Regions from separate parts of the Homo sapiens genome. Here region 2 is linked to region 1. The links come from fine-mapping of genetic effects on gene expression. Tissue or cell type: whole blood. Region 1 holds a variant in brackets; the other region holds the start of a gene. All regions are shown on one strand. Distances are between the middles of the regions.

Region 1 (5,000 bases):
AGACTTTGGTTTTATTTGTGTATAATTCATATTCATCAGTGGTGTAATGAATCACAAAAGTAGCATTGTGAATATACATCCTGTCTTTGATAGGAAAAAGCGAAAGCACTAGGTAATTTCATCCTAATTAACCCAGGCTTAGGTCAACTGCTGCTATGTATCTGGAGAGCAGGAAAAGGGCAGAGTGAAATGATCTCTACAAAGCAGGACAAATCTAATACTGTCAGGATGGGTCACTAGACTCGTGTTCCTGGAGTTACAGGTGGAAAGTAGTAGCTTCTTTTTATAGACCACTAAATGCCTACTTACTAAAATCTGCCAGGAAAGGAAAAATCTTGTCTGACAAATTATTTTAAAATGTGGATTGATCCTGGAGAAGACAGAAAGCCACACTAAAAGTATAATTTGTCAGTATCATCTAGCACAGCAGTTTTCAAACTATGATCTCAGGACTCCTTTACAATCTTAAAAAATTTTCAAGGATCCCAAAGAGTTTTTGTTTATGTGGATAGTACCTATCAATGTCTACTGTTTTAGAAAAAAAATGGGGAAAATGTACATGTTTTCTACATGTATTTATACATGTATAAAATGTCTACACGCACACACACACACACACACACACATATATATATATATATATATTTTTTTTTTTTTTTTTTTTTTTTGAGATGGAGTCTCGCTCCGTCACCCCAACTGGAGTGCAGTAGCGCAATCTTGGCTCACTGCAACCTTCGCTTCCCGGGTTCAAGCAATTCTCCTGCCTTAGCCACCTGAGTAGTTGGGAATACAGGTGTGCACGACCATGCCCGGCTAATTTTTTGTTGTTGTATTTTTAGTAGAAGATGGCATTTCGCCATGTTGGCCAGGCTGGTTTCAAACTCCTGACCTCAAGTGATCAGCCTGCCTCAACCTCCCAAAGTGCCGGTATTACAAGTCTGAGTCACCACGCCCGGCCTATTTATTTATTTATTATTGAGACAGAGTCTGCTTTGTCGCCCAGACTGGAGTGCAGTGGTGAGATCTCAGCTCACTGCAACCTCTGTCTCCCGAGTTCAAGAGATCCTCTCACCTCAGCCTCCTGAGCAGCTGGGACTACAGGTATGTGCCGCCATGCCTGGCTAATTTTTGTATTTTTTGGTAGAGATGGGGTTTCACCATGTTGGCCAGCCTGGTCTTGAACTCCTGAGCTCAAGCAGTCTGCCCACCTCAGACTCCCGAAGTGCTGGGATTACAGGCATGAGCCACCGCATACAGCCTATTTATTTTTGAGACAGGATCTGGCTCTATCACACAGGCTGAAGTGCAGTGGCGCAATCACAGCCCACTGCAGCCTCGACCTCCCAGGCTCAAGTGATCCTCCCACCTCAACCTCCCAAGTTGCTGGGACCACAGGCATGAGCTACCACACCTGTCTAACTTTTGTGTTTTGGGGAGAGACAGGGTTTCACCACGTTTCCCAGGCTGGTCTCAAACTCCTGGGCTCAAGTGATCCACCTGTCTCAGTCTCCCAAAGTGCTAGGATAACAGGCATTAGCCACCGTGCCCAGCCCATATTTATTCATTTAAAAATAGCAATGGCCTGGGAAACATGGTGAAACCCTGTCTCTACAAAAAAAAAAATTTTTTAATTAGCTGGGCATGGCCAACACCTGTAGTCCCAGCTACTTGAGAGGCTGAGGTGGGAGGATCACTTGAGCTTAGGAAGTCAAGGCTGCAGTGAGCAGTGATCACACCACTGCACTCCAGCCTGGGTGGCAGAGTGAGACCCTGTCTCAATATAAATAAATAACAATGAACTCATTACGTTTTATGAAAAATAACTATTTTCCAAAACAAAAAACTGTGAGAAGAGTAGCATTTTAACATTTTTGAAAATATCTGGCAGCTGTAGTCTCATGTCAGCGTCTGCATTCAGTCTGTTGTTATATGTCATGTAACTTATGGAAAGTTCCACTGTACTCTCATGAGAGAGAATAGATTTTTATGAAATTATAGAATTATTCTGAAGATAGTTTTGACCTTGTAGACCTACTGAAAGGGTCTCTGGATCCCCCAGGGGTCTCTAAACCACACTTTGAGAAATGCTGATGTAGCAGAAATGATGAATGCCAGGCTCTGGAAATTGACCACCCTAGGTACCTATTTTTTTTTTTTTTTTTTTTGGAGATGGAGTCTCGCTCTGTTACCCAGGCCAGAGAGAGTGCAATGGCGTGATCTCAGCTCATTGTAATTTCCGCCTCCTGGGTAAAAGCAATTCTCCTGCTTCAGCCTCCTGAGTAGCTGGGGTTACAGGCACACACCACCACGCCTGTCTAACTTTTTGTATTTTTAGTAGAGATGGGGTTTCACCATGTTGGATAGGCTGGTCTCGAACTCCTGACCTCGTGATCCGCCCGCCTCAGCCTCCCAAAGTGCTGGGATTACAGGCATGAGCCACCGCGCCTGGCCTAGATACCTGTTTTATAAGTTATACCAAATACCAACCTTTTGTATGATGTAGAATTAATACTTTCTCAAAAGCTATAATTTCAAATAATTTCACTTTCTTCAGTAAGGTAATTCATTAACTGTGTATAACTAAATCTATATATTTAATTTTTATCACAAATTAGAAAAGATTATTTTCCAATCACATCTGGAAAATATAATAAAGCTTCATTCTGTAGCACAAAATAAACAATCAACAAGTATTTGTCAAATGTTCTTTTTTTTTTTTTTTTTTTGAGACGGAGTCTCACTTTGTCGCCCAGGCTGGAGTGCAGTGGCGCGATCTCGGCTCACTGCAAGCTCCGCCTCCCGGGTTCATGCCATTCTCCCGCCTCAGTCTCCCGAGTAGCTGGGATTACAGGCGCCCGCCACCACGCCCGGCTAATTTTTTGTATTTTTAGTAGAGACGGGGTTTCACCGTGGTCTCGATCTCCTGACCTCGTGATCCGCCCACCTCGGCCTCCCAAAGTGCTGGGATTACAAGCGTGAGCCACTGCGCCCGG[C/T]TGTCAAATGTTCTTACGCTCCATATAGCTGGAACTGACTGGATATGAGTAGCTTTATGCTTTTCACCGAACTCTGAACTAACGAGGGCAGGATGTGAGCTAATGACAATTCTAGATTGTTAAGTCCACTCCATGATCCAGATAATAGTAATTTTAAAATTGGCTTCACCGAGGTGAGCAGAATATAGACCTGTTATATCAAAGAGTATTTCTTGCTTCTCACTTTCTGCTGGAGGTACCAGAGAGTACCCAGACTGAAATATGTTTCTAGTGAAATAATAATAGCTACTCTTTAATGAATGTTTGCTAAGTGTCAGGTATTGGTGTAGGCATACATTGTTTCATTTTATCTTTAAAATAACCCTGTGAGGTAGATATTATCTCCATTCTATGGGTATGTAACAGTCACAAGGTCTTTCAGCTGGTAAAATCTGTCTAACTGCAGATCTGAGTTTTAATCAGCTGACTGCCTCTGGATTAAAGAAGCCTGGGTTAGGGGTAAGAGTAGGAATTGGAAAGGCTGTTTTCTGCCTTTGGATTTTCATGCAATTATGTCGATAGGAGAAAGGAGGAGACAGGGTTTTTAGATGATTTTTATCTCTGATATGGCATCAACTCAACAACAAAGAATGACGGCCTCATTTACTCTTCTGAATGCTGATTAATTTTGGGTCAGAATTGACCTCCAATACAACAAGAGTGGGTTTCACTAAAACATGTTGCTTGTCAGTTACTGAGCAACTGCTGAGCATAGTACCTTGGTAAATATAAAAGCAGTCTATTTGTGTTTACAAGGAGTTTAAACATGAGTTGGGGGTTAAATATTATTGGTATACAGAATAGTATACCAGTAAATGTAAATTAAGGTATCCACTGGCATTGGCCTTTGAATGGAACTATTTTTTTTTTCCCCCCCACCGGTGTAAAAGAGAATGTGTTACAGATGTGGCTAAATTTATGCTCTGAATAAATATTACTCTATGGCTCAGGAACTTTGGTGATAAGGTAAAAAGTTTTCATAGAGGGAGATAAAGTTTCTTATTCTCAATCCCTCCTTTAGAGATAATATATTCTAGGTTCAAATGCAGCTCAAGAAAATAGGTTAACGGCACTCCATTTTACACCTCCCAGTCATATTTTCATTATGGGACTCCTTAAGATGCTAAGGGCTAAAACTGGTTTTGACTTATCCTGAAAGTGGCAATATAGAGTTTTCCTAGTGCTGATGTTCTTAAAAATCTCTGATTACGGGGGAGAGTGAGATCTTTCTTGAAGAACCAAGGAATAGTTCCTCAATTTTCAAAGATTCAAAAGTTGGAAATTAATTATAATCAATCAATGATAACATCATAGAATCTTAGATATACAAAAAAATCTTAGAAATCATCTCATATAACCTCTTTTTATTTTTTATTCTTCTTCTTTTTTTTTTTTTTTTTTTTGAGACGGATTCTCACACTGTCGCCTGGGCTGGAGTGCAGTGGCACAATCTCGGCTCACTGCAACCTCCGCCTCCAGGGTTCAAGCAATTCTCCTGCCTCAGCCTCCCAAGTAGCTGGGATTACAGGCGCCCACCACCACGCCCAGATAATTTTTTTTTGTATTTTTAGTAGAGACGGGGTTTCACTATGTTGACCAGGCTGGTCTCCAACTCCTGACCTTGTGATCCTCCTGCCTCAGCCTCCCAAAGTGCTGGGATTACAGGCGTGAGCCACCACGCCCGGCTTTTTTATTCTTTTTAAAAATTTAAATCCTTGGGACTCTGCTTGATATAACCTCTTCTTTTAGATGATGAAACCAAGACCCAAGAGGTAAGTGATTTTACCAAGTTTATATGCCTTATTAGTAGATCTGAGACTACGATAGAGTGCTAATAGGTGATTTCCTTCTCACCTTTCCTAGCTTCCTGATTTCTTTCTTCTCGACTCCTGAAAGATCTAAGTATTTCCATAATCTCTTGGTTAGGCAGGAAGGTATCCAAGATCCAGGATATCTATATGCAGGAAG
Region 2 (5,000 bases), 35 kb after region 1:
AGGAGGCTGAGGCAGGAGAATCGCTTGAATCCAGGAGGCGGAGGTTGTGGTGAGCTGAGATCGCGCCACTGCACTCCAGCCTGGGCAACGAGTGAAACTCCACCCCTCAAAAAAAAAAAAATTCCAGAAACACCTGTTTTTTTTTTTTTTTTTTTCATTTAACTACATCCCCCTTCCTGGTTGAAAACCACTGCTGAATCAAGTCACTGCCACTGATGGAGGTGTACTGTATCTTTCCAGTGTGTTAGGCTAGAATAAAAATTGAGAACCATAGCTGGGTGTGGTGACATGCACCTGCAGTCCCAGCTACTAGGGAGGTTTGGGTGGGAGGCTTGCCTGAGCCAACGAGTTTGGGGCTGCAGTGAGCTGTGATCACGGCCCTGCACTTGCAGAGCAAGACTGTGTCTCTAAAAATAATAATAATAATGATAATAAAGAAAAAAAAAAGGCTGGGCGTGAGCCACCTGTAATCTCAGTACTTTGGGAGGCAGAAGTGGGCTGATAACCTGAGGTCAGGAGTTCGAGACCATCTTGGCCAATATGATAAAACCCTGTCTTGACTAAAAATACAAAAATTAGCCAGGCATGGTGGCACATGCCTGTAATCCCAGCTACTCAGGAGGCTGAGACAGGAGAATCATTTGAACCCGGGAGGCGGAGGTTGCAGTGAGCCGAGATCGCGCCACTGTACTCCAGCCTGGGCGACAGGGCGAGACTCCGTCTCAAAAAAATAAATAAAATAACAAACAAATAAATAAATAAATAAAATAACGGCCGGGTACAGTGGCTCACGCCTGTAATCCCAGCACTTTGGGAGGCCGAGGCGGGTGGATCACGAGGTCAGGATATCGAGACCATCCTGGCTAACACAGTGAAACCCCATCTCTACTAAAAACACAAAAAATTAGCCGGGCGTGGTGGCGGGCACCTGTAGTCCCAGCTACTCTGGAGGCTGAGGCAGGAGAATGGCATGAACCCGGAAGGCGGAGCTTGTAGTGAGCCGAGATCCCGCCACGGGACCCCAGCCTGGGCGACAGAGCAAGACTCCGTCTCAAAAAAAAAAAAAAAAAATTGCGTAAACGTATGGGTAGAAGTGCGATTTTGTTACATGCATACACTGCATAGTGGTCAACTCAGGGCTTTTAAGGTATCCATCATCTTTTATCTACTTTTTGTTTGGCACTTAGAGAGTAGTACATCGGCCGGGTACGGTGGCTCACGCCGGTAATCCCAACACTTTGGGAGGCCGAGGCGGGAGGATGGCTTGAGCTCAGGAGTTGGAGACCAGGTTGGGCAACATAGGGAGACCTTTTCTCTATTTAAAAACAACAACAACAACAACAAAAAAAAAACCTTTTTTTAAAAATTACCCGGGCGTGGTGGCGCACACCTGCAGCCTGAGCGACAAAGCAAGACCCTGTCTCAAAATAACATAACATAACATAACATAACATAACATAACATAACGTACATCATGCTACGGAGGCCGCTAAAAAGAACATGGCTTCTGTCATACAGGAGCTTATGGTCTCATGGAGAGGCACTGTGAGAGTTCAGAGACAACAGCTCAAAGACAGGGTGGGGGCTTGAGAAAACTTAGCAGAAAGGTGTAGGGGTGGGAATCGGGGTGGGAGTGGAACTGTCTTTTTAGAAGGATGGCCTGGAGAAGAGGAGCAGTGAGAGCATTCCAGGAAGTGAAAGCGGTCAAGAGGTGGAGCTGGATAGCCGATATGCACGAAGGGTGCCCCGGAGAGCCACTTATCAGGACGCAGAGGTCTATAGAGCAAGGAAGAGGCAGAGTTGGAGCGTGGAGGGTCGAGACGCCAGGCAGGAGTCGAGGTTTGACAGGATTAGCGCTGAGCTCTAGCAAGACTGACCTACTGCTGCGAGGAGCTTGGGCTTGGGCAGGAAGCAGTGCAGCTCGCGGTCCGCAACGCAACAGAAGCGGGTGAATTCAAGGGCACCAGGCCTGCAGACTAGGGGATGGGAGGACGCGGCAAGCGGAGACTGGCCCAGGTGGGCGCGCAGGCAGTGGGACTGGCAGCCCCTGCTCGGCCCTAGCCGGCAGCGTACCTGGATGCTGCAGCTCCTTCGCATCCAACCGAGGCCTCCTCAGGCAGGCAGGGTCTCGAGGCCACTGTCTACGCAACTTCCCAGCACAGCCGAACGCAGCACTCGGAACCAGACACGTGAGGGTAGCGTCCCTGGACAACCCTGAACGCCTCAGCTATTGGTGCAGAAAGCAACTTTCTCCCTCCCACCTGCCGGGTTAGCCTCTAGGATTCGGCTTGCCGCGCTATAAAGGGAACTGCGCATCAGACGCGGCACAACTCCGCCCACTAAGGCGGGAGTCCGCGCAGGCCGTCACTCTGGCTGGAGGCCGGCTTTGAACTTCCGGCTTCCGGGCCCGTTATCCTTACTACGCATCCTCAGACGCGCCGTGCTCTCGGAGAGGCCCGCTGAATTCTGGGGGCTGTGGTTTCTCTCCCTCGAGGGAGGGTCTTTGGCGAGCCAAGCTCTGGAACCGGAAGTTTTAGGATGCTAAATCAGAGTCAGCCAATCCTCAGCCTACGGTGCGGTGACGTCGCCAGTAGCTGGGTAGATTTTCGCAGCCGGCCTTCTGGAGGTGGATCGCGCGCCCCCTAGAGCCCGGCTGTGGGCCTAGTCCAGGTAGGGGCCCGAGGGGCACCGCGATGCCTGGACCGCTAAGGATGCGGCAGCTTGGCCCGTGACCAAGGAATGGGCACAAGGGATGAGAGTCTAACGTTTCCGTCCCGTGTGTGATCTCTATTCTTGCAGGAGGCATGATAAAGCCCCTAAGAAGGGCCGGCAAGGCCGGGGCCAGCTTGCGGCGAGGGCGGGAGGGGGCGCTGGCGGGAGGGGAGAGAGAGGGATGGGGACTGAGTGGGCACCGCCGCTGACCCCTGGAGTAGCTGCGATTATGGAGGAGGGATTTCTTTTTTCATTTTTCCTACGGTAAGAGGGAAAACATACGTGCAATGATACGCGCCAGCACACGCACTGCCACATGCACTGAAGCTCCCTCTCCCAACTCTTCTTGTTTCTGGAAAAAACACGCTTTATTGGGTAGACAAATAGGCCTGATGGGAAGGCCTGAGTCACAGTGCACTGGGGAGTGAACAAAAGTAGGCAAAGTGCTTGAAGCTTCCCCTTTGCCCCCACCTTAACCTCCTGGGGAGGCAGCTCTGGACACTCAGTACCCAGACCTGGGCTCAGCAAGGCCTGGGGTGACTGTGCCCCTCACTCCTGCTGCCTGATCTGGGCAGCCCCACCCTTCACTGGTAAGACAGAATTCTCAAGGGATAGGCGCAGAGAGGAGCCCGCCTCCCTGGTTCATTGGAGAGTAACAGGGTTTTAGCATAATGCTGGCCAGAGCCAGTGTGCCAGGTGCTGCCACACAGGAAGCTGACAGCCCTGCTGGACGGGCGGGAGCCTCTCGGGCCCTCCGGACTATTTATAGCTGGAGGCCTAGGCTGCTGACCTGTGACATTCCTCTGCTGCCACCCCATCCTGGAGCAAGGCAAGTGCAGAGCACACTCCTCCTCCTCCCCTCCTGTTCTTTCCTCACCCCAGGGAGTAGGGTGGTTTTGATTTTCTTCCTCCTCCTTGAGTTTCCCAGCTCTCGAGTTGCTGGTGTTGTCAGTACCTCACGAGAAGGCCCTCATTCAGCAAAGAGAGCTGCCCTTGGAATATTGGTGCCCACCAACATAGGAATCTGCTCACCCTTCCCTACCGTTCATCAGCCTTTGGGCCACCCTCTGGCCTGCTGGCTTCCAGATGCCAGGCATGGTTAGCTGGTTACCCTGGCCGGTCTGGAGCAGCTGAGGAAGAGGTGCAGAGTTTGGGAGGAAGAAAGGGGTGGAGTCAGGGATGTCCTCTGGGGAGATAGCACAGGAGGGGCCCAGCTGACACCTCCCCCAGCTAGAGCTACTGAGAAGGAAGCCTGGGTGAATACAAAGGTCACAGGGAGCTGAGTGATCTGAGCCTGTTATGAAAGGTGTAGCTCTGTCAGCAGATTAAGTTCCTGCTCCCCAAAGAGGGTGCTGGCGGGGAGGGTGAGGGAAGGCTTGGAAAGGTCGCACAGAGTGGGGAGGAGCTGGCAAAGAACTAGGAACCGGGAAGTCCCTGGGGAGAATGTCAAGCCACCGAGCTACAGATGCCAGCATGGCAGCAATTTGGGTGCCAGGGCAGCCTGGGGGAGGGGGAAGGGGGAGAACCAGAGGTTTCTGAGGACACAGATGTTGCTAGGAGAAGCTAAAAGGGGTTTGTTTGAGATCTTTGTATTTTGTTAACAAACACTGAGATCCATCGAAGCTGTGTGGGTCCTGGCAGAGGTCAGCAAAGGGGTCCTTGGGGCCTGCATCAGCTCAGAAGCCCAGACCCCTCCCTGACAATCCTTGCCTCATCGCTCCTGTGGCTAAGATACTTCTTCAGCCCTTTAACAGGATTACTGGTGTATGTGAGACAGCCACTAGCAGCCCCTGCCCTACCGGCCTCTCCCCCAACCCTTCTCCACATACATCACCCCCGCCACCAAGCAGGCAGCACTGGGGCTTGATTCCACCCCTCCCAGAGGATATGGAGAAAGCCCCACATCTGGAGAGGGACAGGGCAACTGCATTTCTGGCAAATGTGGTGGCATGAGGCTGCCAGTGGCTTGACAGTTCAGGATCTCCAGGTGCGTAGCTGGGCCCCATAGCCTCCTGTCCTCCAGTGAAAAGATGAGAAGACTCTGCTCCCTGGGAGTCCTGGAGATCCTGGTGACTAGGTACCCCAGGCTTCTGCTGGTCTCCACTGGGGTAAAAAAGCGGCCTGGCCTGGGCCCTGGCCCCACTCACATATGTTCTGGATGATTCTGCAGGCAGTGGATGAATTCACCCACTGGCTGGCCCTCGTAGCACACCTTGTACACAGCCATGAACAAGGGAAACCTAGATTGGAGAGGGAAAGGCTCAGCTTAGCCTCCCACTCCTGGTCCA

What was found. PIP is the estimated chance that this variant, and not a neighbour inherited with it, causes the effect.
Region 2: it holds the start of COX14, and the variant in region 1 is fine-mapped to the expression of COX14 in whole blood (TOPMed, PIP 0.93).

The regions. Positions count from the first base shown.
Region 1 is chr12:50,144,573-50,149,572 of GRCh38, reverse strand. The region is part of intron 1 of CERS5 (ceramide synthase 5); the gene reads left to right. All of the region lies in intron 1 of LOC124902931 (a long non-coding RNA gene), which reads right to left. Among named protein-coding and RNA genes, the nearest start is that of CERS5, 20 kb to the left of the region's middle. The variant C/T (reference allele first, on the strand shown) is at 2,994.
Region 2 is chr12:50,109,375-50,114,374 of GRCh38, reverse strand. It overlaps COX14 (cytochrome c oxidase assembly factor COX14), which reads right to left and starts at 2,139. Exons shown (of 2, transcript NM_032901.4): 1 at 2,074-2,139. GPD1 (glycerol-3-phosphate dehydrogenase 1) reads right to left here. Exons shown (of 8, transcript NM_005276.4): 8 at 3,062-4,952. The coding sequence ends at 4,856. RefSeq lists enhancers at 1,810-1,859, 1,870-2,109, 2,330-2,589, 2,650-2,699.